4 linked regions of the Homo sapiens genome follow. The protein of the gene in region 4 purifies or fractionates together with the protein of the main gene of each other region. This does not show direct contact. Each region holds a gene or a part of one and is shown on either strand. Other genes may lie near its edges. The genes, in order: PIGN, AP3S1, SLC29A1 and TMEM63A.

What was found.
Region 1: the proteins of TMEM63A (region 4) and PIGN purify together in Homo sapiens (affinity purification with mass spectrometry; 2 studies listed by BioGRID and IntAct, with this or other methods). This does not show direct contact.
Region 2: the proteins of TMEM63A (region 4) and AP3S1 purify together in Homo sapiens (co-immunoprecipitation; 3 studies listed by BioGRID and IntAct, with this or other methods). This does not show direct contact.
Region 3: the proteins of TMEM63A (region 4) and SLC29A1 purify together in Homo sapiens (co-immunoprecipitation; 2 studies listed by BioGRID and IntAct, with this or other methods). This does not show direct contact.

What each region holds. Positions count from the first base shown.
Region 1 is NC_000018.10:62,184,039-62,191,082, forward strand, and holds the start of PIGN (GPI ethanolamine phosphate transferase 1), read right to left. Parts: upstream 3,019-7,044; 5' UTR 2,806-3,018; intron 1-2,805. Other genes in the region: RAB11-binding protein RELCH, read left to right, coding at 3,468-3,993.
Region 2 is NC_000005.10:115,837,386-115,844,955, reverse strand, and holds the start of AP3S1 (AP-3 complex subunit sigma-1), read right to left. Parts: upstream 3,022-7,570; 5' UTR 2,919-3,021; coding exon 2,850-2,918; intron 2,470-2,849; exon of another isoform or gene 2,380-2,469; intron 1-2,379. Other genes in the region: ubiquitin-like protein ATG12, read left to right, coding at 3,404-3,566, 7,192-7,328. UniProt on the Homo sapiens protein: Part of the AP-3 complex, an adaptor-related complex which is not clathrin-associated. The complex is associated with the Golgi region as well as more peripheral structures.
Region 3 is NC_000006.12:44,219,390-44,226,611, forward strand, and holds the start of SLC29A1 (equilibrative nucleoside transporter 1), read left to right. Parts: upstream 1-4,205; 5' UTR 4,206-4,252; exon of another isoform or gene 4,253-4,566; intron 4,567-6,671; exon of another isoform or gene 6,672-6,778; intron 6,779-7,222. UniProt on the Homo sapiens protein: Uniporter involved in the facilitative transport of nucleosides and nucleobases, and contributes to maintaining their cellular homeostasis. Functions as a Na(+)-independent transporter.
Region 4 is NC_000001.11:225,879,368-225,886,771, forward strand, and holds the start of TMEM63A (mechanosensitive cation channel TMEM63A), read right to left. Parts: upstream 3,014-7,404; 5' UTR 2,937-3,013; intron 44-2,936; 5' UTR 1-43. Other genes in the region: LEFTY1 (left-right determination factor 1 preproprotein), read right to left, coding at 7,360-7,404. UniProt on the Homo sapiens protein: Mechanosensitive cation channel with low conductance and high activation threshold. In contrast to TMEM63B, does not show phospholipid scramblase activity. Acts as a regulator of lysosomal morphology by mediating lysosomal mechanosensitivity.

The sequences.
Region 1 (7,044 bases), on a different chromosome or scaffold from region 4:
CAAAACAAACACATAACTATTAAAATTTTAAAAAGATATATGCATGTACCAATACAAGTTATCTAGTTTATCTGTGGATGTTTACCACACACTGAAAAACAATAAAACATGAGGTATTACTAAAACCTCAAGTCAACCAAAACTTGCATTCAGAATATTACTTGTGGTTCTTTTAAGACTATTAAAACCTAAAATAATTTTTTAAATACTAAAATGATTGACGTGCTTTGAAAAAAGGCATCTTTTACATCTTCATTGCTAAGGCACAAGCTTTAATAACTATCATTAGTCAGATGAAACATTAGTTGTAAGGGCCTAGATTAATGAAAATCTTACTAAGTAGAAAGGAAATTTCCCAACACTATTAATAATACATTATTATAAGTAGTGATCGGTAATTTTTAATATTCCAGTGTGTGTTACTTATACATTATTCACGAATAACCAAACCTCTGTGTATTGTGGAAAAGAAAAGTACATACTGGGAAGACTGGGCAGTTGATTTCTAATGGGCTTACAAGATCAAACACACAAGTTCATGGTTATAGGATAGGAGGCAGAAATAGAAGCAGAAAACCACAGATTTGTATGGGAAGAATTCCTCTACATGCAAGTTCTTACAACTCTGAGGAAACATTTTAAATCTATTTTCAACTTGTGTTTTAGAACTGAGACCCCAAATTAAAGATACTCCCTTCAGCCCTACTGACTTAATTGCTTTTTCAGGCTTGCACTGCCAAAACGATTGATATTAGTTTTATTTTTAAACACTTGTCAAATGTTCTCAACACATACTAATATTTCAATAATTAATAAGTGACCACAGTAATAGTTATTGTGTAGCAGGTACCAGGCACTGGGACAAGAACATTCTCAATTCTGTGTACTTTCCTTATCCCCTTTGATAGACGAATGCAAGTGAGGCTGAGAAGTTAGGTAACTTTTTCAAGGTCTCACAATAAATAATGAGTAGAATTGGGATCTGAACTTAAGCTTTTCTATCTTATAAGCATAATCCTCTTCAGGAATCCTAAATGCAGGAGATTTCTCAATTTCCCAATCATGGAGATGGAAATATTGTATATAAACAATCCATTTCTAATCATGCCCTTCCCATGCCATTCACTAATCCTCCATTCCTGGATTCCAGAAATTGGTTCCATTTTAATCTCTCTGGAAAATCCAACTAAAATACGGATCAGCAATCCCTTTTGCTAAGAAATCTCTAACAGGATACAGTATTTGCCATTTCAATTCTATTTGGGGGGATTTTTTTCCCCATGTTTTACTTTTAATATATGGCACAGAAAACTATTTATCATTAAAACATTGGGAACTAATGTCCTATAAAAAAATAGTTTAAATTCTTGGTACTTTTTTTTTAAACTTCTAGCAAAAATAAAATTTTAAAAACCCAAATCCCCATTCAAATGAAAATTTTAGTTTATTGAGCCTGGGTATATTGAAATTAAAGCCTACTCTTAACTGTTGGCATACTTTTACATGTAAACCAATAACCTGACCTAAGGTTATGTAAGAATCGTCTATTTTAATTTTTCCATGGAGCTAACGGGAGATACTTTACTGTGGAATGTTTACTACACACTGAATGTAATATGTCACTTACCTGTACACTAAGAAAGGAAATCTAAAGCCTGGAAAAGTGGTCATTTGTGTGTGAAAAAAATAGGAGCCATAAGAAATAGCAGTCTAATTGTATTGACTGGAAATTCCTTTACCTTTTCAGATCATAATCAAGGAATGACATAAAAGATAAACGTTGATCTTCTAAACTTAGGATATGTACTTTATATGCTAACATTTCATCAAAAAAATCAAAACTCTCTGAAGCATTCAACTTTTAAAATAGTTCTAAGTTCCAAAACCTTGATTCTAGCCTGCATGAACGAGTCAGAAATGTTGCAGGAGACAGTGGATAAAGAATCGTTTGGGACATAAGAGAAATGATGTTAATTCCTTTGACTCCTTATTAGCGGAATTGATTTTTTTTTTTTTTTTTTTTTTTTTTTGAGACGGAGTCTCGTTCTGTCGCCCAGGCTGGAGTGCAGTGGCGCGACCTCGGCTCACTGCAATCTTCGCCTCCGGGGTTCAAGCGATTCTCCTGCCTCAGCCTCCTGAGTAGCTGGGATTGCAGGCTTGCGCCACCACGCCCAACTAATTTTTGTGTTTTTAGTAGAGAAGGGGTTTCACCATGTTGGTCAGGCTGGTCTCGAACTCCCGACCTCGTGATCCGCCCGGCTCGGCCTCCCAAAGTGCTGGGATTACAGGCGTGAGCCACCGCGCCCGGCGTGGAGCTGATTTTATAACAACCACTCTTGGCTTAAGTTTACTTATCTGTCTACTGGTGAGACAGCATTAGATATTCTGAAGGGTCCCTGTTGTGTAAATCGTGTATTAAATCCTAAGCGTTTATTGAGTACCTAACAATTTGTTTTCCAACTCGACGATGTTCCCAGATCCAGGCAAATGCCAACCTCAGCGTTCCCTTTTCCGTTTAGTCTCTCCAGCCCCCGTCCCCACCCACAGGCAGGACCACCTCCGGGGCTGAGAAGTCGTGCTGTCGCTAGGCCTCCCGAGTGTGCAAGCATGTGGCAGAGAAGGGAAAAGAAAGGAAGTCACATTCCGACTACAGGCCTGGGCACTTGCTATCCATGGGGACAAAATGTCACCACTGGCAGCAAATAGCGAGAAAAAGTGCAGCGCAGTAGGGAAACAGCGCGTCCGCGGGCGCGACACCACAGTTTGGGCGCCGACACCCTCCGCGCACTGGTCCCTGAACTTTACCTGGAGCTTATCCCGGTCAGGCCTGATCTCGAAAACGAGGGCTCCTCAGCGCGAAGGCAGGACCCAGCTCCATTAAAGCTCTCGGGCAGTGGTCCCCTCTACCCACTGAAGCGATAGCCGGGAGGGTATTCCTAAGCCACCACTACAACCACCCCTCAATTCCGGAACGCCCCCAATACCTGCCCGGCCGCTGCTGCTATCGCGATAATTCTCGGGCCAGTCTCCCGTCAGTCCGCTCCACGCCTTCCTTCTCTGACCAATCATGGAGGAGTCGTGGGTGGAGTTTTGCTTTTGAGCGGAGAGCGGGGCCTTCAATCTTTGCTATCTGGCGCTGGGAATGGGCGGAGCTGAAGTGGGCTGGGGCGGGGCTGGGGCGGGGCTAGATCGGGGAGAGGGGCAGGGGCACGCTCCAGTTCTCGCGAGACTGGAGACCAGGAAGACGCCTGCAGAGCCGGGCTGCTGGTGCAGCAGAGGCTGAGGCATCAGGTGCAGCTGCATCCGGATCTCCTGCCTTGGAGCGTACTCCTTGTCTCTAAGTCGGGAGGCAGGACGTGGTCAGGCCGGGGCTGTGGAGGTGCGCTGTGTCCCCTGAGGCCTAGAGGATTCGGGCTGCGGCCCGTCGGAACCAGTCAGGGAGGCGCCCACACTCCTGACAGGATAAGATGGCGGCGATGGCGCCTGGAGGTAGTGGCAGTGGTGGCGGCGTGAATCCATTTCTCAGTGATTCGGATGAGGACGATGACGAGGTAGCTGCAACAGAGGAACGGCGGGCAGTACTTCGGCTGGGCGCCGGAAGTGGCCTAGATCCTGGCTCTGCGGGCTCGCTGTCGCCACAGGATCCCGTGGCCTTAGGAAGCAGTGCGCGGCCAGGGCTCCCTGGGGAGGCGTCGGCGGCTGCAGTGGCCCTGGGGGGCACCGGGGAGACCCCGGCCCGATTATCAATTGATGCGATCGCTGCTCAGCTGTTGCGCGATCAATACTTGCTGACCGCCCTGGAGCTGCATACCGAGCTGTTAGAGAGTGGCCGGGAGCTGCCTCGGCTGCGCGACTACTTCTCCAATCCAGGCAACTTCGAGAGGCAAAGTGGAACCCCGCCGGGGATGGGGGCGCCAGGGGTCCCTGGAGCAGCCGGCGTTGGGGGCGCTGGAGGTCGGGAACCGAGTACAGCGTCGGGCGGGGGACAGCTCAGTAAGTGGACGCAGCCTGTCACACTCCGGCAGGGTATTTGGGATTGTACGGAGTTACTGTAGGGGAGAGGGGGTATTTCTGCGTGGGTCCCGATAGGGACATTTTAAGGAACGAGAGTATTGGGGTGGGGGCGCTCTTTTGCGGTGGAAGCAAGAGGATCAGGCAATGACTGTTCTCTCTGCCTGCTTCCAACCCTTGGCTGGTGTTGCACTTGGCTCCTGGCTCCCCTACTGGTGTCAGTATCTATAAAATATCAAGAGTTTCTAGTTCACTGGCTATTACGGGACTCCAGAAGGTTCCCTTTTATACTAGTTTATTGCTTTAAGCATTTTCCTTTTTCTCCAGTTACCTGAATCACACTACCAGGAAATAGTGTTACCTGAATTGCCTGCAGTAGTTCTTTGAGTCTGAGCCAGGAGAGAAAGAATAGGACACACTGCTGCTGTCTCCGAAAAGTCAGATGTACTTAAGACCCTTTGTCTTTGGGACGACTTTTTCACCGCCAAAATTGGGTTTTCTGCTGCACAAAATTTGTTCTGTTGAGATAAAGTTGATGTAATTCAGTTTCAATGCCTTAATTTAAGTAATGTCCAAAATTACAGGAAATCCAAGGAGCAAGGCAGACAGGTTCTACCAGCAGTCTGTCTCACCATCCCACCACCTTGCAGGCTTTTCTCTTTGCATTAGATAGGAATTGACCTTTTTACCTTGGAATGATTTTTAGCAGCATAGAGTAATCGTTTACCCCATATATTCGTAAGCATCTCTTATGGCTTGAAAACTTACTGTCAAAGATGTAGTGTACTGTATGTAGGATTCCCAGTGTCTCCCTTTTGGGAGGTATCTTAAATATTCCCTTACTAATGTATGGAGATGTTTTAGTATGAGGCCATATATTAATTCTATATTAACAAGTATTCATATAGAATTTTTAAACTGCAGCCTAATTGATTTTTTTTTAATCACTATGCTTTTGAATAGTGCCAGAGACTTAAATTGCCAAACGTAGACGTGGTGGAAGCTTAGGGAGTGCATTTTCTATCAAGGTGAATCTTAAATATATTTCCCCCTTGGATATGGGATTTTCTCAGTAGTTATAATTTCCTTACCCAATATGTAGGATAATCTTCTTTTTCGGGAAAAGATTTTCTCATTGCTGACCTTTAAGACTATAAAATGAGACAGTAGTGTAACAAAATTGTTATGTGTGGTGGTGGGTCTTTTTTTGTTTTTTTTTTTTGTTGTTTTTTTTTTTTGGTTTTTGTGTTATTTCTAAGATTTCTAAATTATCTCATGATTTTTCACCAGACAAGGTCTAGCTAAGATGTCACCTTTGTACATGCTTCCTCCAGGCTTAGGTAGTTGCTTGGTTTCTTTCATTGTTAACACTTTCAAACCTCCATCATAGCCTTTAGCCCGTTTGTATGTGATTGTTGACAATACCATTTTTCTCCATTGGTCAGTTCTTCAGAGACATTTTTATAATAAATTTCTCACACTTTGCTCAGTCCCTGGCTGTTGATGAACATAACTGAATTGTATCTGCTGTGTTTTCAACCGTATTAATACAGTGAAATGGATTATTCCTTAGTTGGTAACTTTATTCATTTAATTTTAAAGAATTTCTTGACCTTTTCACCCTGTCTTATTAGGGCTATCATAGCATTGTTTCTAGTGAAAATTCCTCCTTGCAAACTTTTTGTATTGAAAGAATTATAATTGAGCTCATTAAATAGTTTAGCAGTGTTTTAGAGTAAAACCTTACTTCTAAGTGCCTTTGCATTATACATTTTTATACTTTCTTGAAATAACTAGAGTCTTATGATCAAATATCACAATTAAATATTCATGTGCACCTGTGCTTTTCTATTATCCTCATTTATTTGTACCTGTTTTAGGTACTGGATATATAAGTGTTTGTGTTTGTCTCTATGTGTGTGTGTACACATCAAGTTTATTAAATTTTTACTTAATACTAAGCAAATGAACAACAGGACAAAAAATTCAAAATTATCCATAATCCCACCAATGGTATTTGCTTTTCCTGTCTTTAATGGTAGTTGCCTTACCTGTCTTTTCTGTGCATGTGTTTTAAAAAACAAAAAATGGATTAAACTGTTTAACATAGTCTTATACAGGCACTATACTTTTTAGCATCAACTTGGATGTAAAATTTGCATACAGTAAAATTTACACGTTTTAAGTGTGTGCAGTTTGGTGAGTTTTGACAAATCAGTCACTACCACAATTAAAATACAGAACATCGGCAGGGTGCAGTGGCTCACGCCCGTAATCCCAACACTTTGGGAGGATGAGGCAGCCAGATCACGAGGTCAGGATTTCGAGACCAGCCTGGCCAACATGGTGAAACCCCTTCTCTACTAAAAATACAAAAATTAGCTAGGCGTGGTGGTGGGCACCTGTAATCCCAGCTACACGGGAGACTGAGGCAGGAGAATTGCTTGAACCCAGGAGGCAGAGGTTACAGTGAGCCGAGATCCCACCACTGCAGTCCAGCCTGGGCGACAGAGCAAGACTCCATCTCAAAAATAAATAAATAAATAAAAGTAAATAAAATAAAATACAGAACATTTTTATTATCCCCAGAATTCCTTCATTCAATATCCTTACTTCCATCTAGACCACCACTGATCACTTAGAACAGAATTTCTCAACCTGGGCCTGGGTACTTTCAACATTTTGGGCCTGGTAATGCTTTGCCGTGGCTGCTGGCCTGTGTATTATAAAATGTTTAACAGCATCCCTGACCTCTACCCACCAGATGCCTTTAGCAACCACCCCCATACCTATGCCACCCCAGTTATGACCACCAAAAATGTCTCCAGCATTGCCCAGGGAAGGGGAGGGCATAATTGCCCCAGTTGAGAACTACGTCTTTAGATAAGTTTTGCCTGTTCTAAAATTCGATATAAATAGAATCATAGAACGTATTTTTTTGTGTATCTGCCTTCAGCATGTTTTTAAAAGTCATCTATGTCTTTGTGTGTATTTCTAGATCATTCCTTTTTGGTTTTATCCCCAAAAGGGGGG
Region 2 (7,570 bases), on a different chromosome or scaffold from region 4:
GAGTTAGAGAGTTTTCTATGTTCAAGACTCAGTGTTGACTGCTTAGAATGACAAAAATATACCTAAAATCTGATACGTTCCTTCAAGTATTCTATAGGATGGCTGCCACGAGGAATTATAGGCTGTGAACGAGAATACTGTGTCATAACAAAGATGAAAAAAATCCTAAAAACCAGGAGGAGGCTTTGAGCAAGATCAAAGGCTTCACGGAATGTTTAGGTGATGTTTGTGCTGGGCCTAGAACAAGGGGTTGAATTTGTACACGTGGCAATGGAAAGGAAGGACATTCCAGGCAGCAAGAATAGAATGACGCCCTACACAAACAGACACTTCCAACTAATGTTCCCTTACACAGTCTGCTCCTGCTATGTACAAGTTCCTGGGGTTCTTCAAACAGGCGCTCTCCTCAGGGTTTTTGCATTTGCTGCTCCTTCTACCCGGGATGCTCTTCCCCCAGATATCTGCAAGGCTGCCTTTCTTACCTCCTTCAAGTCTTTGCTCAAATGCCACCTTCTCAGTGAGAACTTACCAGACTACCCTATTTTAAACTGTCATCCTCTCACTCTCTAAGACTCTTACCCGCTTTATTTTTTTTTCCACAGCACGTAATACTATCTGGCATGCTATAATACAGCCTACTCCTTAATAGTGCTATGTTCCTCACACAAGAGCGAAAGTTATCTGTTCATCTTCAGATTTTAAAACAGTGCCTGCACATGGTAGGCATAAATTAAATTTATCCGTTGACAAACTGATGGAATGAATGACTGAAAAAAAATAACTGCCCTCAAAAAGGTTATGGTCTAGTGGAGGAAGCAAATGTATAAATAAATAATCTTAAATTATTCCTGAAAGACAAAAAAACACTCGGCAAAACCCAACTTATAGAAACTTAAAACACAGAAACAACTTCTCATACTCCACCTATAAACGGCCAGTGACCACCAGATTCTTCTTTTTATATCTTCTAGCTCTGTGCCCTCAGTGGCACTGTCACTCATACAATGGCCAAAAATGCCACCAGAGCTGCCACTCCTGCCAAAACTGCCACTTCCCACATTAACCGTCACTGCTACCTAGTAAGTGATGGTAAACAATACTTCTGTTCCCACTTTTGGACAAGGGAAAGACAGATTTCTGAGTTTCTAAATTAAATGCATTTTTCAATAGATAGTTAAATTATACACTATACGAGTAGTATACACCGATTACATGGATTAGCCAGGAAACCCACTATTTTTAATATTGCTTAAGTTTAGATATGGAAAAATAATTTTTTGAATTGTTTTACTATTGCAACATACCTTTTTTACACTGCAAATGGATGACACTGGCAAAATGGTTATGACAAAGACTCCTTCAATAAAGGCTGGTACTATATTTTAACAAACAGGTAAAGTTAATGGCATTTTTTCCCATTCGGGAGGATCAACTAGAATTTAATCTGGATTAAAGAATGATGTAGAATTTTTAAACAGACCATTAGTATTGAAGTTATACTAAATTAAAACCACACACGAGTAGCAGAAAATATTCTTTATAGCTAGCAAAAGCAAAACAACTGAAAAAAATGAAGAATAAGCTCAAGATTTCTCACTTCAACTAACACCTCCAGACTGCATTATCATTTTAGGCAAACTGACATTTTCACATTTACTTTGTAATGGCAAGATTGATTTCCATCTGGGACTTATCTGCATAAAAGTGTTAGCCTTGGCACAATTTCAAAATTGAATTGAAAGCTCATTTCTTGCTATAAGCAAAGTGCCACAATACCACACAACAGTTATACCTCACATTAATCCTACCACTGGGAGTCCAATTTTATGTGTTTCAGCTAGCGAATTCTGCCCTCAGGTAAGCACATAACTCTATAAAACCCTTCCTCGATCATCAACAAATCACTTATCTCTACTACCTTAATGCCTCCTGCACTTGTCCATACTAAACAGTATTTACACGTTAAAAGAGAAGTTCTACAAATGCTACTATTCTTCATAAATAGAAAAAAACTATAAATGAGGGCAAATTCCCATACGTGGAAAAATGCCAAACCAGAAGCTGAAATCATAACTTTTAGGTATAGAACCACAGCTCCAATCAGTCAACTACAAACGTCGCCGGTTACTTCGAGGGTAAATAATTTGCAGCCAGCTGGTAAAAAGCCTGATAAAAATATTAGGTCCTCACATATCTTCCTTTTCAATAAGGAGACACCTGAAAGTCACACTGGGCAGTCTGTCACGTATCGAAACATGCAGAAGAGAGACTGTACAGAACGTGCAGTTATCAAACGCAGGAAGCCAAAGTTCCTGTGCTATGAGAGGACCACAGTGAAAAACGGTAGCCCATCTGTCCAAAGAACAGAAAGAAGTCCACCTGGAAAGGATGGGAGTCGGCGGAGGGGGGCGAGAAGAACGAGTTCCACGCCGTCTTCCTCCTCCCGGGCTAACTGCAGCCGCGGGCGGCAGGAAGGCAGCCGCGCGGGGTGGGCTCTTGGGGACTGGGCGCAGGGCTCCGCGGCGCGGCTGGGCTGCGGCTGCCCGATCGGCGAGGGCCGGGCCCCGGGAAGTCTCCAGGGCCTCGCCCGCGCAGCCAGGAAAGCATGCAGCCCACCGACGGGCGGAGGAACCGCCCGGGCAAAGCCACGTCGGTGGCTGACCGCGCGGCAGGGAGGTGGGCACCCTGTCCACACCCACCAGGAGGCTGACAGCTGGCGAGCGCCAGGCGGCCGGGACGGGACAAGGGCCGCAGCGCGCCGGAGGGGGTCGCTCTGAGAAAGCCGCGCTGGGCGCTGCCCGTCGCCAACGACTCCCCCTCGCCCGGATCAGCGGCGGCTGGATACTCACGTAGGGCTGGTAGAACTTGGAGAGCCGCGGCTTCCCGTGGTTGTTGAAGATTAGGATCGCCTTGATCATGGCTGTGCCGGGCCGACCGGGTGGGCACTGGGGGCCAGGGCGGGGGCGGGCGCGCGAGCCTCGCCTCGTAATCTCGCCTGCGATCCTTCCCCACCCGCCCCCTCCCGCACGCGACCGCGCGCGCTCCCGAGCCGTCGGGCGGGGCCCAAGGGGCGGGGCCTGGGCGGGGCAGGCACTAAGGAAAGCGGAAACATTTCTAGGTCCGAGCCAGCGGCCTAACTGGAGTGTGCGCATTCGACCGAGCACAGACACGTTGCCCACCGCTCCTCTCCCGAGGTCTGTAGTCGCGGAGAAACACATGTTGCGTTACTAACGTTCAGAGGTCTGCGACAGCTTCGATTTGAATGACTAGCCGGGAACACCAAGTTTCACTGTGTAATTGCGTCCCCCTACTCCGGCGCCTCCTTTGCGACGCTCCCTGGAGAAAAGCACGCCCACTGCACGCGCTCAGTCGCTACTTCCGCTCTCGAGTGTCTCCAAGCAAGATGGCGGAGGAGCCGCAGTCTGTGTTGCAGCTTCCTACTTCAATTGCTGCTGGAGGGGAAGGACTTACGGATGTCTCCCCAGAAACAACCACCCCGGAGCCCCCGTCTTCCGCTGCAGTTTCCCCGGGAACAGAGGAACCTGCTGGCGACACCAAGAAAAAAAGTAACTGAATTTATTTCCGGGCAGAGAGGCGGGAGGTTCAGATTGCATCCGAGTAGGGGTGGCGGCCAGTAAAGAAGCAAAATTTAGAGGAGCGCCTGTCCTAGACCTGCATTTTGACCAGTCATCAGAAGAAAAGAAGTGTACTTTTTGATTTTTAAGGCCTTTAAGTTGAGTGTTAAAATACCATCTCTGTCTATCGGTGTAGGGCCTGATACTTGGCTGCCACACTTATTTTTATACTGTATTTTTTTGAGTTGGCCAGACTGCGAGCTCTTTGAAGGAGGGAGGGAGCTGAGTGGGGCGGGGGGAGGGGGGTCTCGGTAATTCCAGGTACTTAACACAGGAGCTAATTATTTGAGTAATGTTTTATGGTGGTAGGGGTGGTCATTGGCAAAGCCTGGATTAGAATTCATGCCTTCCAACTTAACTCGCTTTTGCTTTTTTCCCCCTCCCAGTTGGTTGTGAATTCACTCCTTAAACCAAAAACCAAATTCTTATGCAGAATGAAGACTGCTAAGGGAAAGCTAAAGGCATAGATGTTACCTTTTTAAGAAACACATTTTGGAACCTTTGTGAGTTATTTCATTGCTTGAGTCAGCTATCCTCAACCCTTTATTGCTTGAGAATGTTTCCCTTTGTAAAAGAGATTGCTAAAATTACGTGTTCTAAAGCACTCTGTTTAGAGTTAGAGTTGCCTATGGGAAAAGCAGCATATAAGCATCCTCGATTCAGAGAGGCTGATTTCGTCCTTAGACGTTTTCCCCGTTCTGTCTTAAGATGACAGTGGTCTCTGGCCGGGCGCGGTGGCTCACTCCTGTAATCCCAGCACTTTGGTAGGCTGAGGCGGGTGGATCACCTGAGGTCAAGAGTTCGAGACCAGCCTGGCCAACATGGTAAGACTCCATCTCTACTAAAAATATAAAAGTTAGATGGGTGTGGTGGCGCGCGCCTGTAATCCCAGCTACTCGGGAGGCTGAGGCAGGAGAATCGCTTGAACCCGCGAGGCGGAGGTGGCAGTGGGCGGAGGTCTCGCCATTGCACTCCAGCCTGGACAACAAGAGCGAAACTCCGCCTCAAAAAAAAAAAAAAAAAAGACATTGGTCTCATTGCTTTTTCTTCAACTTCTGCTACTGTGGAGGATAATTCTCTCCCAAGACTGCCCCCCTTCCCACTTTAAATCAGACTCCCATTTCCACCTGATGCACTATAAGTATTTCCATGGATAGCCACTGGAATCTTTCTTCAAAAGAATTCCGCAGGTTTTACAGTGTTTTGTTGCATTTTTTCTTCCAATTTACTATAGGCAAGAGCGGACGTTCGGAGATTCGTTTTAAGGTCTAACAGTCTTAGTCAAAACTTGTTACTTGACTCTGATGATAGCTGTGCAAAACAAAAGCTAAAAAAAATGGCTTACAATCTAAATATTGCCCGAGGGCATATTTTCTTGGTCTGGACAGTATTTTTTTGCAAATTGAACTGTCATTTAAGGATGAGATTTTTATTTTCTGGCTCTTGTTAGCATTTGAGTTTGCCTCTCCAATATAAAACTTAGTTTCTAACTATTCCTACCTTGTGCTTGTCATTATTTGTTGAGGATAATATGATGAAAGCAGCTTAACTGTTTTGTATCCTCAGCCTTTGTTAATCTACAGAAGAAAGATTGTTGAAACAGACCAAGGTTTTGGCACTGGAGGTATGTTAGGTTTCCTGGGGAGTAAGTGTTTCCCTAGTTGATTCTAATGTGTATCCGGGTTCAGAACTACAAGCAAATCACCTTTAAAATTAAAAAGAGAGGGCAGCTATAATTAAATTATTTTCCTTCTCTGGTTTCTCACTGTCTTACACTTCATCCTTGGTAGCATAACTCATGATATTTCCTGCTTCACTTTCTGGAAATGTTTAATTGAATTAATCGATTTATTGATAGCCCCAGGGGATTTGAGGGAGCAGTGAAAGGAGGTATGAAAGATAGGCTAACTAAAATCCCACGTTATCTCCAAATTCATTCCTATTCCTAAGATAACTGGACCTAGGATAATTAAGTAGTTCTTTAGTAGGAAGATAAAGATCATGTGTTCTAGATGCGTTCATTCCAGGAGTAAACTTGAATAAAATGACCTCTGATCTTTTGGCCCCAATATTTAATACCTAAAGAATGGAGCAAGAAGGGTGTAATAGAATAGAGTTAACTTTAGGGGGCAGCAATACACTGTTTTGCTTTCAATGTGTCTTGCTTTTTGACTGTAGATTTTTTTTTTTTTTTTTTTGAGAGGATGTCTCAGTCTGTCACCCAGGCTGGAGTGCAGTGGCTTAATCTCGGTTCACTGCAACCTCCGCGTCCCGGGTTCAAGCTATTCCCCTGTCTCAGCCTCCCAAGTAGCTGAGATTACGGGCATGCACCACCACGCCTGGCTAAGTTTTTGTATTTTTAGTAGAGATGGGGTTTCACCATGTTGGCCAGGCTGGTCGTGAACAAGAAGTTGGAAGGGGACTGGGCCCTCTTGAACTCCTGACCTCAAGTGATCCTCCTGCCTCAGCCTCCCAAAGTGTGGAGATTACTGGCGTGAGCCACCGCGCCCAGCCAGATGTATGTTTGTTTTGTTTTAGCAAATAACTTTATGTCTGAGAGACAGATTCATAGGGTTTGGGTTTGCATATCTGTGTTTTGGATCGTTGAAACCTTAAGATTTCTCTTTCTGCAACTTCTTTTTGGCTTTGGTTGTTCTATTGTTAATAACTTATTGCTTTCCTTTATTAAAAAGTTTATTACAGAAAATTTGGTAGTTACAAACAGCATAAGTAAATCCAAGTAATCATTGCCTACAATGTCACTACTGAGAAATATCATTTTGTTGCATATTCTTCCATATTTATGTGAATGTGTTTGTGATGGTTTTTAATGAATTTAAGATATTATACATGCTGTTGGAGAGATTAAATATCCACATATATACCCAGCAAGTGGCAGAGCCAGGATTCGAACCCCAGGCAGTTAAAAGTGTATGCGGTTTACTACATTCTATTTAATCAGTCACCTCCAAATATCCTTTTTGGGTATTTAGGTTTACCAGTGTTTCATATAAAAATAAATGCTTAAATGGAGGTGAAATCTTTTTAAGTGAATTTTCACACATCTCATATTTTCTTACACTGGATTCCTAGAAGTATTATTGAATCAAAGTATACCTTTATTAGGATCTGTATTACCATACTGCATTCCACAAAGGGTATACCATTTTACATTCTCAAAAGTAGTATCATCTACACTGGTAATTACTCTAATTTTAACTAGTTTGGTGGGTGAAAAGGGACATGACATTATTTTACTTTGCTTTTTGTGAACTTAAATATTGTTTGTGTATTGATCATTTGTATTTCCTCTCTTTGGAACTGCCTGTTAAGATAAAAGGCATTTTAAAAATTAGTCCTGTTGGGAGAACTTTGTAGGATCAAGAAAAAAATGATGGAAAAGAATCTAACATTTTTACATCTCTCACATATCTTCAGTATCATAAATACGTAAGATGGATGTAGATTAAATATTTCTGATTTCTAAGTCTTTTATATTCCATTCTCTTTAGATGTTTCAGTGTAATTGTCAGTAAATTTTATTCTTCTTTTACAGTTGACATTTTGCTAAAGGCTGTGGGAGACACTCCTATTATGAAAACAAAGAAGTGGGCAGTAGAGCGAACACGAACCATCCAAGGACTCATTGACTTCATCAAAAAGTTTCTTAAACTTGTGGCCTCAGAACAGTTGGTATGAAACCAATGGTGATGTTTTCCTACAAAAATTTGCAGTAGTTCCTAGGCAACAGTGAATTAACTGTTGTTTATAGAAATGCATATGGAGCCACATATGTCGCTTTTGTTATGCCCTTTTATCCCTTTATTTTTATTTATTCATTTTTTTTTTTTGAGACAGTCTCGCTCTGTTGCCCAGGCTGGAGTGCAGTGACACACTGCAACCTTCTCCTCCTGGTTCAAGCGATTCTCCTGCCT
Region 3 (7,222 bases), on a different chromosome or scaffold from region 4:
GGAGGCGACCCAGGGGGAGGGGCAGAGAGAAGGGGGTCCGAGCCCTTGGGCCCCTAACCCCGTCCCTTTCCGGAGCCTCGGGTGCCCAAAGGCGCCGGCCGCCAGTCCCAGGCCCGAAGGGCCCCTCCCACTGAGTCGGCTCTGGTCTCCCCGCCCCTGAGCCGCGAGGACTGGACGCAGCTGGCTGCGGAGCTCTGGGCGGGCGCTGGGGTCGCCTGTTGCAGCCTCTCTTCCGCCCGGCGGCCCACACCGGTCAGGCCCGGCGCGGGCTGCGCTCTCCAGCTGTGGCTATGGCCCCAGCCCCGAGATGAGGAGGGAGAGAACTAGGGGCCCGCAGGCCTGGGAATTTCCGTCCCCCACCAAGTCCGGATGCTCACTCCAAAGTCTCAGCAGGTGCGCGGGGCGGGGCCGGGGGGCCTGGCGGGGCGGGGTGGGGTGGGGGCGAGGTCTGCGCCGTTCTCACGCTGCCGGGCGGGACAGGGGGCCAGTAGGGGGACCCGCTGGGCTACAGTGTCTCAGGGGAGTCAGAATCTTTGGTTTCTGGATGCGGGGCCACTTTTCTGGGCCTTCGAAGGCCATTATTAGATGACTGCCTCCCCAAACTCCCCAGCCACTTACAGATGTCCCAGGAACATAGGGTAGGGGGAAGAGGTCTGGAAAATTAGCCTAGAAGACCAGCCCAGACCTAACTGAACAAAGAATTTAGTCTTCTCGAACCCCGAGCCAGTACCCACACTGTGAACACACCTGTCTTTACTTAAAAAATCTTGATGTTTTATTCATCATGGAGTCTTTAAAAAAAAACAAAAACCGAGTCTCGCTCTGTTGTTCAGGCTGGAGGGCAGTGGTGCGATCACAGCCTACTGCAGCCTCGACCTCATGGACTCAAGCCATCCTCCCACCTCAGCCTCCCAAAATGCCAGGACCACAGGCATGCGTCAACATGCTCAGCTAATTTTTTTTTTTTTTTTTTTTTAAGAGACAGAGTCTCCCTGTGTTGACCAGGCTGGTCTTGAACTCCTAAGCTCAAGTGATTCTTCTACCTTGGCCTCCCAAAGTGCTGGGATGACAGATGTGAGCCACTGCACTTGGCATCATGGAGTCTTGATTTGTAGACATTGCATTAAAACTTATTTTGGTAAGGGCTGGGTGTGGTGGCTCACGCCTGTCATCCCAGTGCTTTGGGAGGCCAAGGCGGGCGGATCACAAGGTCAGGAGTTCGAGACCAGCCTGACCAACGTGGTGAAACCCCGTCTCTACTAAAAAAAAAAAAAAAAATACAAAAATTAGCTGGGCGTGGTGGCACGTGCCCGTAATCCCAGCTACTCAGGAGGCTAAGGCAGGAGACTCGCTTGAACCCAGGAGGTGGAGGTTGCAGTGAGCCAAGATCACGCCACTGCACTCCAGCCTGGGTGACAGAGTGAGACTCCATCTTAAAGAAAAGAAAAAAAAAAACAAACTTATTTTGATTACATTAAAATGTATCTTTGTTTGTTTGTTTGTGTTTTCAGACAAGGTCTTGCTCTGTTGCCCAGGCTGGAGTGCAATGGCAGGATGATGGCTCACTGAAGCCTTGTCCTCCCGGGCTCTAGTGAACCTCCGGCCTCAGCCTCTGGAGTACCTGGAACCACAGGCTCGAGCCACCATGCCTGGCTAATTTATTTTAATTTTTTTTGTAGAGATGGGGTCTCACTGTGTTGCCCAGGCTAGTCTTGAATTCCTGGGCTCAAGTGATCCTCCCACCTCGGCCTCCAAAAGTGCTGAGATTTCAGGCATGAGCCACCACTCCTGGCCTAAAATTTATCTTGATTCATGAGTTTTTTGGCTCCCCCTTACATTTTACACCCCTGGCAAGTGCCTCACTGGCCTCTCCCTAGTCCCAGCCCTGTCACAAGGCCATGGAGATACAGTCACAAACACAACTGAGAACACAGACAGTCATGAGACATGTGCTGGTTACCAACCCCCAGGCCAAGCAAACACACTTCCAGCAAACACACATGACTTGTTGGTGACAGCTGAGAGGACACATGCCTGGGGAGAGAGAGGACTGTGTGTGAGGTGGTGAGGCATGCATGGGGCCTGCCAAGTTGGGGAGGGAGTCTGGGCCAAGCCACGGTCCCATATAGGGTGGTGAATAAGGTGTAGAGTAGAGGTGCAGCAGGACCAACCCTTCCCACCCCACCCCTTCGACAGGGACCTGAGGGAGCTCAGGGAGGGAGAGAAGCCAGAAGACCAGGCAGAGACTGAAGAGAGCTGGCAAGGCCTGGCTAGAAAAACTCCAGGCAAGGCCTGTGTAAGTTGGGGCTCCCAGGCTGTCCAGCAGGGGGCCCTGGCACCCAGCAACCTCTGCTTGGGAGGTGGCTACAGAGGGGTGTGGGTGTTGGCTAGGGGCCCAGCAGGATGGATGCCAGACGGACTTCTCTCCAACAATAACAGCCCTGGCTGTTGCCATCCACCGAGCTGGCAGGGCCCCAGTTTGGGTGGGGAGAGGAACCAGCCTTTCCCAGTCTGGCCTGAGACCCTCACCACTTCCCTCCAGTTTTCTTCCACCTCCAGCCCCCTCTGTACACAACTGCAGCCACTGGCCACCAGCCTTGCCATGCCTGGCAGATCTTCTGACCACTAGCCCTGCCACCCCCACAGACCCAGAGACCAGGAAAGGAGGGTGGGGAGCGAGGAAGGGGGCCAAGGCAGAGGGCAGAGGAGGGCTAGGAGAGGAAGAGAGAGAGACTGGACAAACATGAGGGCAGGAATTAGGGGGTTGTGGACAGACATGAAGCCACTCTCAAGTCATGGGGCTGTGCCTGGAAAAATACCACCTAAACCCATCTTCCTGCCCTCTGGTTAGGGCTGGCGGGGATGTGGGGGATGGGGGTGGGGTGGGGGAGGGTTGGGAAGGAATATGTGTGTCATCTCTGTGGGGCATGGAAACAGAAGGCTGGGGACACCCATTCTGGAGTAGCTTGGGGAGAGCCACTGACCCTAATTAGAAAAGCCACCTCTCTCCTTAGGGCCCTGTCTGTTTCTCTGGGGACAGGGTAGGACTACCTTATCCCTATGATGTGAGGTACTGCCAGTTGTTAATCAGTGTCTGTGGCTTCTCTAGGGGACAAGCCCTTCGGGTCAGTGGGCATGGGGTGGGCAGCGTGGGTTGGATTTTCTCCTCAGGACCTTTCCAGCCTTAGGATCATCCTCTAGCACTGAGTACTGCTGGAAGGGCAGGGAGTGCCCCCCACCCCACCCCATTTATTGCCCGACCAAAGAGAGGGCCTCCCTCCCCCTCCCTTGGAGGGACTTGCTGGACCACCCCTCAGCACGCCCACACCTTCCTCCTTAGCTAGTGAAAGACATACTCAGCAAGGCTTCCGCCTGTCAGGATGGCTGGGACAATAGGATTCACTGAGGATATAAGGCTGTTCCTAGCTTTTTCTCTTCCCATTCCCACCTGTGCCTCAGTTTTCCAAAGTGCTGGATTTAGAAAGGGTGAATTATGAGGGAGCTGGAGGGCTTTGCCCCACCCCCCTCCGCGCGCACACGCAAGCACAGGCAGAGGCACATACCCCCTCCAAGTCAAAGTTGTGAGTGGGGTGGTGTTTGCGCGTCTGTGGCTGGGACTGGATGTGTCAGGGATGGGAAAACCCATCATGCTGGTCACAGAAAATGCGCGGTGGGGACAGAAGCAGTTTTGAAGGAAAAGAAGAGGAGGGGGACTGAAAGAAAGAAGGGGGCGCTGAAAGGGAGGGCGCTGGGAGGAAAAAGGTGCAGTGTGGAGGAAGCGCGGCGTGGGCAGGGCTTGGGAAGGGATAACGGAATATCTGAGGTGGAGTGGGCCGTGGAGCGTCGGGGCCGGTCTGAGCAGCGGGTGTGTAAATGGAACAGTCCCGAGATGAATTTTATGGGAGTCTGCGCAGGTCCTTAATGTGTGGCTGTACCCTCCAGCCCCATGTACCCCACACGATGGACAGACAGCCTTGGTGTGGCAGGGCCCAAAGAGGTCCTATCTACCGCAATAACACGACCAGGCGGCCCTGGGGGCGCAGGGGCTCGGGGTGGGAGCGGCGGAGCGCGCGGAGTCGCCGCGGGGTGGCAGGGGTGGGCCGGGGGCGGGGCCGCGGGCGTCGGGGAGGTGGCAGTGGGCGCAGGGCGGGGCGAGCTCAGCGGAGGGCGGGTTTGAATGTGCCCCGGCGGGAGAGGGAAGCTGCAGCGAGAGCGCGCGGATCTCAGCGCGGGAGCAGTGCTTCTGCGGCAGGTGCTGCCCGGGGCCGGGGACTGGGGACTGGGGACTGCCGGGGCGGAAGACGCCGCTGCCCGCCTGCCACGGAGGGCAGGGAGGGCGGGCCTGACGGCTCCGCAGCCCGGAGAAGGGACGCCGGGTGGGGCCCCAGTGCGGAGCGTGCGGAGCCGCGCAGCACGTGGCGCGCACGGGCCAGGGAGCCTGAGGACCCTGCGGGGACCGGGACCCAAGCTGGGCGGGGCGGCCTGGCTCCCGGGCCTAAAACAGGCTGCGGTCACGTTGACCTCCGCAAGGGGCAGGCGAGTGGACGGGTGATCCCCATCGATCTGGTCGGTATCAGGGAGGGGCCGTGCCGCTGACTGCGCTGGCGGAGGGGTATGGGGATGGGGATGGGGATGGAGGCTCGCGAGCGGAGGTGCAGGCTCGCGAGCGGAGGTGCGGGGCTGTCTCTTTAACCCCGGTCTTTTACTGGCTAAACTCGTATCCCTGGCGTCTCCTTCCTGCGCACGTCTTCATTTACTGATTTACTGTGAGGGTATATGAGAGGGTGAAGACAAACAGTCCTCGGCTTTGCTTACCAGGAGAGAGCAGTCGTAGGTCAAGGCTGGCTCCAACCCTGCCCTCACACCTCTAGGGGTCTCTCTGCAGCCCTGTGGTAGTCCCTTTGCCTACTCCTCTCGGTGGCCTCCAGACCCTCCAACTTTCCTCCTGCTTGTGTAAGCTCCCCATGCCAGGATGTGTGTGATGGGGCGGGGCTGAGCTGCCTGACACTCAAGTCAGGCTGGGAATGATCTTGGTCTCCACCTCATTTTTCCCTTTAGTTGAATCAGAGTTCCCCCCACCTCCCAGTCTACAGGGCTAACTGAGAAGCAGCTTTTATACCTCTCTCCATTCCAAAAGGAGCTTGAACATTTAATATGGATTCTAGCTCCTCCACTCACCAGCTCTGTGACTTCAGGCAAGTGACTCAACCCCTCTGAACCTCAGCTGGCCCCATCTATTCAGTGCTAGTACTAGCTTATGGGTGGTTGTGAAGAAAAGACAAGAGATCTGCAGGTAGTGGCTAGCCCCATATGAAATCCTGGGAGTGGAGAATTGCAGGAGAGGTGTTGGGAGTCTGGAGGCAGGGAGGTACTCAATTTGGTGGCTACTTTCAGGGGCCCACCTCAGCAGGCCAAGGCATAGTTGGAGGGACACCAGATGCTCTGAGCTGGTATCAGATCCCTGTTTGCCGCTGGGCAAAGGCAGACAAAAGCAAAACACGAAGGCTGGCCAGCTGAATGTTAGGATATGGGCAGGAGGAGAGGGCTGGAGTTGAATTGTGCCCAAGACTGGTATGGGAACTCCTGAGAACAGAGAGAGCAGGGGTGTAGCAGGGGGCCAGGGAAGAAATAAATACTTCTTCTCTAAGCCTAAGCCAGTTTTACCCAGGAGAACAGGAGCTATTCTCCCCACCCTAGGCCCCCATCTGCTTTGAAGCTACACCTGCTCTTAACTGCCAGGAATCTTGCCTGTGGGGTGGAGTACGGGGTATGCGGGTATGAAGTAAGAACCTAGAGGAAGAGTCCCTACTACCTAATAGAAAACCTGAGACCTAGGCAGGGCTCAGTGGCTCATGCCTGTAATCCCAGCACTTTGGGAAGCCAAGGTGGGTGGGTCACCTGAGGTCGGGAGTTCGAAACCAGCCTGGTCAACATGGTGAAACCCTGTCTCTACTAAAAATACAGAAATCAGCCGGGGGTGGTGGCAGGAGCCTGTATTCCCAGCTTCTTGGGAGGCTGAGGCAGGAGAATCACTTGAACCTGGGAGGCAGAATTTGCAGTGAGCCGAGATCATGCCATTGCACTCCAGCCTGGGCAACAGGAGCAAAAACTCCGTCTCAAAAAAAAAAAAAAAAAGAAAAAATCTGAGACCTGAGGCTTTCCCCCACCCCCACTCCAGTAATGCCCTCTTGCCTTCATCTCTCTAGAAAATGTAAATATGATTATTCACCCCTCGTGCCTAGGACAGTGCCTGGCTAGCATGCACAGGTCCTCAGTAAATATTTGTCGAAGGCCTGAATGGAGGAATCCTTCTGCCTCTATCTGGAGGTGTGGGGCTGAGGGGCTGAGGAGGACCTCTGAGAGCTTGGAGTTTCCCTGGGGAGGGTTGAGAGGAACTACAGGGAGGTGGGAGAGCCCGTGGAAGGTCTCATGGTGCCCAGCTGCTTCTGTTTGTCTGAGTGGGGCCAGAAGCAATGCTGCACCTGCGAGAGCTCCCCTGCTGAGACTCCCTGTTCTCTTATCTCCCGAGCGACAGGGGTGGCTTTTTATCTCCTGGGTGTGCTTCTGCTTCTTTGCTTGCAAGGCTTCTCAGAATGGGGCCCCATGAAGCCTGAGGGACTCTCTCCTGATAACACCCTGTGCCACCTTTTTCATTCTGGATCCGCACCCAGGAGCCCGTGGACAAGGCCCACTGCCTGAGCCTGAACTAGGAGCACCTCCTAGGGACTGCCCAGGCTTGCTCTGCTCTGACCCTTCTGCTGGCCAGTCTGGGCACCTGGTGAGTGCCCAGAAAGGGAGGGAAGGGAAGCTGTCCTTTCACCCCAAACAGCAAGGCCTGGGCCCAGCTAGGCCTGAGTGTGGGGAATGTGTCAGTGCACATCTGCCTGGCTTCCCATGCCACCCAATGGGAAAGCTGTTTAATCTGCTGGTGCCAGGGGGTCTCCCCCTACACAAATGGGGAGCAGGAGAGGGACGCTGAGGCAGAAGGATAGGTGCTTTGGGATCCACCCCTCCAATCTTCTTTTCAAGGTCACTCTTAGAAAGGGGAAGCGGACAGGAGCCTGTGACAGAGAGGAACTAAGGGAGGACTAGGTGACCCTGGGGTCGGGAGGGGGGAGGGGGAAGGGCTGTGCCCCCACATCCATTATGAAATATTTTCTTGGAAAACCGGCCAGCAACTAGGAAGCCCCTGGGCAGTGGCTGGAAAGAAAGGTTAAGGTGC
Region 4 (7,404 bases):
TTTCCTGACCAGCGAGTCCTGGGGTACCAAACTGTAGACTTTCCTGAAGGATCACAGACACCAAGCATCACATGGGAGCCACCCTTTTCCAGTGTAGGGGTCTGGATGGAAACCCTCCAGCACACACCTGTGTATGCATGCTGCCCATATGGACCTTTAGGTTCTGCCCAGTGGGCTCCCTCCTGCCTTGATCTCTCCCCAAACTCCCAGAACTGGTTCTCCATCCATCAGTGCTCCTCTGTGCGACCCTACTCCTCCTTCCTCGGCCAGCACCACCTGTGGCCCCAGCCTCTCTCCTCTTTGCCAATGGCTCAGGGACCTGCTGGGTCTAGGGGAGCAGCCCTCTCCCACAGAAACCCTGGAGGTTGTGGGCTCACGGTAGGGCCCCAAGCAAAGGACTTCACCTGGGCCCCAAGGGCCAATGCTACTGGGGAGGCTCCCCAGGGTTCCCCAAGAGCTAGAATCAGGAAAAGGGAACACAGCAGCATGAACAAGGAAGGCTTGAAATGTGAAGTGGAAAGAAAAAACATCCCCATAAAATGCTCACAGAGAGAGCATTGTCCCTGGAAAGGGGAGGGTGCTGTGGTGGTGCTGGGAGTGGCATACCCTCGCCAGTGCTGCAGAGGAGAGAGGCCTCTGCGGAGGGAAACACCTGCGGCTCCTCTTCCCCCTCCCTCCAGCCCCAGTCATGCCTCTAAGTTACTTGTCTCTTGCCAAATAGGCTTCCCAGGGTGGTTTGACAAAGTTTGATATGAACTCAGGGAGGTGGCTAGCAAATACTATCAGCCTGAGACGGAGGTAAGGTCAGGTGGCCAGTCCTGTCTGCCCTCTCCGATGAGCACCCAGGTTAGGGTAGAGCTCTGGGGACCCACAATCTCTCTCAGACCTTTCAGCTCAGTCCCAGCCTGTCCCTGCCCATTAGACACATAAAGTCCAGATCCCCCTGAAACAGCTCCGTCCCTCTGGCTCTCCATGGGACAGCTCCTCTGCATTTTCACAAACAGGCACGCTCTGAGCAGGCAGCTGGGAACACAGACACCATGGGACAGTGCTGCCAGGCTGAGGAGAAGGCAGGGGGAGGGGAGCACCCAGCTGGCAGCTGTATAGAGGAGGCCAAACCAGCAGCTAGGCACTGTGGTTGAAGTGGCACTGCCTGGCTGAGAACCCCTGGCAATATTCAGTCATCCTAGATGTATGTGAATGCCTAGCACTTACCTGTGCCTTCCAGAAATTCTCCATTCATCCCCTTATTCCTACTCAATATGCCGAGGGTAGGAAAGCCAAGAATTACTGCTGAGGCCCAAGAGCCAGAGTGGGCAGCAGGTGACTTCACGCTCCCAACCCAAAGTTCAACCCATGTGCAGGCAAGCGTCTGATTGTGGCCAGTGGGAGAGGGCTAAATCCAACAGCTGGTCTAAATTTGCCAAAGTAAACTACCTATGCTAATCCACTGCCAGTCTCCATTGGCAGCAAGGACTGGCCTGGTGGTCAACTTGACAAGCTCTAGAAATACCAGCAGAATGTTGCAGGAAGTATATGGATATTGTTCGTTCTTGCAAGAAGGCCCGTACAAATTCAGGGTAATTTTATCATCACCAAATCTTTCAATCCTGTGATGACAATAGCGAAACTACAAGCAGCTCCAGGCCTTCTGCCTCAGGAGCTAACTCTGGTCTTTCAGATGCAGAATAAGGTTGCAAAGTAAAGTACAAACTTCTCCTTATGGCAACACCAAACAGGACCCAGTAACCTGGACAACTGTTTACCTCCTACCCTGGAGCACAAAGGAAATGACACAGCCCCTGGCTGAAACCAGAGGCAGTGTGGCTCAGGGATTATGTGAGCAGGCTCTGGAGTTAGGGTCTCAGCACCACGCAGTTCAGACAAGCAGCCTAACCACTCTGTGCCTTGGCTTCCTTCGCCAGGAAATGCGAGTGATGACTTTCTCTCACGGAGCTGTTGGGAGGCACAGATCCCAAACAACACCTGTAAAGCACTTAGCCCAGGACCCGGCCCTAGCAAGCAATTAGAAGCTGTCTGCCTTTATTTTAAGTCGCCCCTCCAGCTAATGGGAAACACAAGGGCAGGATCCCACCTGACGTCTTCTCTGTTAGAGCCCAACGAACAGCTAGGAGAGACCTTTGCCCCCACACTAAACAAAGGAGAGGGGCGTGTGAAGGGAAAAGGAGCCTCGGCTTCCGTTCATATCCCCCTTGAAGGCACAGCAGACTTGAGGATGACCTGAGAGGTGTCAAGGGAGGGTCAGTGGGTCCGCCACGCTGTCCACCCCTGCCCTTGAAGAGGACACCACCTGCCTGGGGCTGAATGACCAAGGCCCCTCCAGGGCCTCAGGTAGCTAGTCTTATCAGGTGCTGGAACCTTTGCGGATTTGGTTTCTTAGCAGAGCTCGCCTCACCCTTTCCGCCCCCGCCCTTCCCCCCAGTCCCCGAGTCCCCAGCCTCCCTCCTCAGGACTCCGCCAAGGCTGCAGGAAGTGGTCACCCAGGAACAGCCCGAGGGGTGGCCTCTGCCTTCCTGGCGTCAGGAGAGTCGGACGCTTGGCCCTTTCCCAGCCCGGCCTCGTATAGGGTCCGAGGAGCCCATAGCTGCACTCCTAGTTAGGTGGGAGGTCGGACTCCGCCGACAAATCCCAAAGAGAGGGGTGGGGAAGAAGGAGATACCAGCCCTGAAAGCGAAAAGCCGGAGAGGAAAGTCCTGAAAAGCCGCCAGGAATTCCCAAGGAGCGCAGGGCTGGAATGGAGGCGCTGCCCGGACCCTCTCCTCCCACCCAATCCCGCGTCGTCACCCCCTGCTTGGGGTCGGGGGCTCTGGGGTCTGCGTAGGCTGGGAGCCGTTCCGGAACCGGACACCTGGCGCGCACGTCCCGGGAAAGGCGGAGGGTGCATTGCCCCTCCTCACGCCCCCTGTCCCCTGTACCTGCGGCGGCGGCGTGTCTGGCGGGACCCAGCAGCGCGGGGCGTGTTCCGACCACTTAAAAGTTACAAAGTGAAACTCCGGCGCCTCCTGCACATGCGCAGAGCTGCGGCCACCCCTTTCCCAATTTGGAGTCTTGGCCCGCGGCGGCGCAAGCCTGTACGCAGCTGACTGCGCCTCCCGCGGTGGCCCTCGGCGGTCCTCTGCCCCGGCCTGGCCTCCTGGTCGCCGCTCAGCCCCGCAGCTCCTCCCGGAGGTCTGCAAGCCCCGGACCGGCCAGCTCACGTCCAGGCTCCAAGAAGGGATCCGCCGGGGCGCACCCTCTTCCGTCCCCCGGCACGAGCCCAGTCTCTGGACGCCTCCGGGAGAACTGGGCCAAGCACAGGGTGGTCGCGGCGCAGGGAGAGCATCTGCAAACGTTGGTCCCTGTAGTGCTTTGAATTTCCCCGAAGAGCTCTTAGACCCGCCCCGGGAGAGTGGGGTTGCGGGGGTGGTAGCATGGGGAGCTCAGCAGGATTCAGCCCGCACCTCGGCTCCGGGTAGTCGGGAACCGCGCGGAGCGCCCTGCAAGAGGCCACGGCTCCCCCGCCGCTGTAGAAGGCCGGACCGTGAAAGCCCGGAGGGTCTCCGTTCGGGCAAAAATGTGGGGGCGGGTCGCAGCATTTCCAACGCCCCCTGGGGCTAGTCCATTACTGCTCGAGCCAGGGCCGCCAAGGGCACCTACTCCAGCCCAGGTCCGAGAGCGCGGCATGCCTCCCGGCCGGGAGCCAAATGTTTCCAGGGAGCCGGTGGCCTCCACAACCGGACCGCAAGCTCGCGAGGGCAGGGCCGGCCCGCCGCGCCAGGGACTGCTGGGCGCTGCGCGGGAAGCGAGGCTGGGTTCGGGGAGGACCGCGCGCCCTGGGAATCAAGGAGCAAACCAACCCGTCCGCAGGCCCCTGTTTCCCTATCTGTGAAATGAGTGGTTGGACCAAAGCTTCCTCTCAGGTCCCTTCCAGCACCCCTCTCTGAGCTCTGAGCAGTCCTCACCCCACATGCATGCCTTTGCAGGTTCTCCGACCTCCCTTCCATTTCTGAGCTTTCATCTTTTTCTGTAACGGCATAAAAATATCCTCCTTATGGCCGGGCGCGGTGGCTCATGCCTGTAATACCAGCACTTTGGGAGGCCGAGGTGGGCGGATCACCTTAGGTCTGGAGTTCGAGACCAGCCTGACCCGCATGGAGAAACCCCGTCTCTACTAAAAATACAAAATTAGCCGGGTGTGGTGGCACATGCCTGTAATCCCAGCTACTAGGGAGTCTGAGGCAGGAGAATCGCTTGAACCTGGGAGGCGGAGGTTGCGGTGAGCTGAGATTTCACCATTGAACTCCAGCCTGGGCAACAAGAGCGAAACTCTGTCTCAAAAAAAAAAAAAAAAAAAAAAAAATTCCTCCTTACCTCCCTGTCCCTGATTCTAGCGCCAGTCTGTGGCTGTCCAGGAGTGGGGTGGGGAGGGTCTCTTCCTGCCTCTCTCAGTTCTTTTCTGTCCCATCTGTCTTTCCCCTTCTCTCCCCAAAGCTCTAGCCACTAGTTATTTTCCAGGGTTTTTCCTCTATGCCCCCCGCCAGTATCATCTCTGCCCTTGTCCCTCCATAGCTGCGCCTGGCCATCCCCCCTCCCTGCTCTCTTACCTCCACATCTGACGGTCTGCAGAGTCCTGGGTGTGGCCCCTGGACTCCCCGTTGGCTCCTTAGACTGTCCCTGTCCAATCTTTCTTCCACTCCCCACTCCCGCACCTGCCTGTCCTCCTTCCTTCCTCAATGAATGGTGCCCCCACCTGTCTGGTCTGTGCCATGGGTCCAGGCAAGTGCAAGGTTCCGGTCTTGGTAATTAGAATGCTGGAGCCACTGACAAAGATTTCAGAGAGAGAAAGGATTTCTAAATTTGTTCTTGAGTAGGTTAAGGTTATTTCAAAATCAAGAGAAGGCCTTGATGGATCGATATGTGAGTTGAGATAGCCACAGCCTTTGTTATGTCAGTTGTGTGAAGTGCTTGTAAAATCACTATTTTATTTTTTAATTTTTAATTAATTATTTACTTATTGAGACACAGTCTCACTCTGTCGCCCAGGCTGTAGTACAGTGGTGTGATCTCAGCTCACTGCAACCTCCACCTCCTGGCTTCAAGCGATTCTCCTGCCTCAGCCTCCCAAGTAGCTGGGATTATAGGCATGTGCCACCACACCCGGCTAATTTTGTACTTTTAGTAGAGACGGGGTTTCTCTATGTTGGTCAGGCTGGTCTCAAACTCCCAACCTCAGGTGATCCTCAGGATTATAGACGTGAGCCACCGCGCCCAGCTGCACAGCTCTTACAGCTATAAATTCCAGATCCTCTGAAGCTTTATTTTCTTCTCTAAGTATAGATGATAATTTTGATCACAGATTTTATTTTGATGCAAGTAGGATTGGAATAAAGCCCAGTCACTATGCCCAGGAAAGTCAAAGTGTCAAGAACAAAAAAATTTCAGTATTGGCCGGGCGCGGTGGCTCATGCCTGTAATCCCAGCACTTTGGGAGGCCGAGGTGGGCGGATCACAAGGTCAGGAGATAGAGACCATCCTGGCTAACATGGTGAAACCCCATCTCTACTAAAAATACAAAAAAATTAGCCGGGCGTGGTGGCGGGCACCTGTAGTCCCAGCTACTCGGGAGGCTAAGGCAGGAGAATGGCGTGAACCCATGAGGCGGAGCTTGCAGTAAGCGGAGATCGCGCCACTGCACTCCTGCCACTGTACTCCAGCCTGGGCGACTCCGTCTCAAAAAAAAAAAAAAAGAAATTTCTGTATCAATTCTGGGAGGGCAGGTACCATAGATTCTAGAATCAGAATGCATTTTATTTTTATTTATTTTATTTTTGAGACAGAATCTCACTCTATTGCCCAGGCTGGAGTGCAGTAGTGTGATCTCAGCTTACTGCAACCTCCGCCTCTTGGGTTTAAGCGATTCTCATGCCTCAGCCTCCCGAGTGGCTGGAATTATAGGCGCACACCACCATGCCCAGCTAATTTTTGTATTTTTAGTAGAAATGCACTCTCACCATGTTGGCCAGGCTGGTCTTGAACTCCTGGCCTCAAGTGATCCGCCCACCTCGGCCTCCCAAAGTGCTGGGATTACAGAAGTGAGCCATCGTGCTGGCCCTGAAAGCATTTTAATCCTAGTTTCATGTATTACCTAACCAAGATCTTTACCAAGTCTTGGCCAACTCAAGCTCCTTCCTTAGTTTTACAATCAGGTTGACCTAATCGCTGTAGAACTTTCTGCTCCTTCCTCAATTTGCAGAGCTTTGATTAAAATGGAAAATTACAGCCGGGCACAGTGGCTTGTGCCTGTAATCCCAGCCCTTTGGGAGACTGAGGCTGCCGAATGACTTGAGGTCAGGAGTTCCAGACCAGCCTGGGCAACATGGCAAAACCCCATCTCTACTAAAAATACAAAAAATTAGGCCAGGTGCAGTGGCTCACGCCTGTAATCCCAGCACTTTGGGAGGCCGAGGCAGGCGGATCACGAGGTCAGGAGGTTGAGACCATCCTGGTTAACACAGTGAAACCCTGTCTCTACTAAAAAATACAAAAAATTAGCCAGGCATGGTGGCAGGCACCTGTAGTCCCAGCTACTCGGGAGGCTGAGGCAGGAGAATGGTGTGAACCCGGGAGGCAGAGCTTGCAGTGAGCCAACATAGCGCCATCTGTACTCCAGCCTGGGCGACAGAGCTGTCTCAATAATAATAATAATAAAAATACAAAAAATTAGCTTGGCGTGGTGGTACATGCCTGTAATCCCAGTTACTCAAGATGCTGAGGCATGAGAATCGCTTGAACCTGGAAGGCAGAGGCTGCAGTGAGCCGAGATTGGGCCACTGCACTCCCGCCTGGGTGACAGAGTGAGACTCTGTCTCAAAAATAATTAATTAATTAAAATAAAATAGAAAATTACAAAATTATAGAATAAAATGTGTTTTATTCATGTTTTACAAAGTCTTTATTATCTGGATTGGGGATGCACAACCCACACTTAACCCCAGGTCTTAGGTCCAGAGTGGTGGTGGAGGACTTTAGCCCAGATCCAGTGACAGGACAAGTAAACAATGACACATTGGGCTTTCTGCCCTCAGGTTACAGTATCTCCACATGTAAGTGCTTAGAATATAGTGCAGTGAATAATAAGAATAGAGAAAACTGAGCAAGGGCTCTCCAGTGGCCAAAGATTCTCATTCCTGAGAAGCAAAAATTAGGTGAGGTAACTTGTCAGAGGAAGCAAATTCAGGGCTCACTAGAGAGCACAGAGCATTTGTCCATCAGCAGTTCAGTCATCGCCAGCTCTCCTGGTACCCTCGAACACTTCAGAAACACACACAAGTCAAGTCCCTCGATGGCTACACTAGGCGCCTATGGCTGGAGCCTCCTTGGCACGAGCGCACCATCCGAGGCACA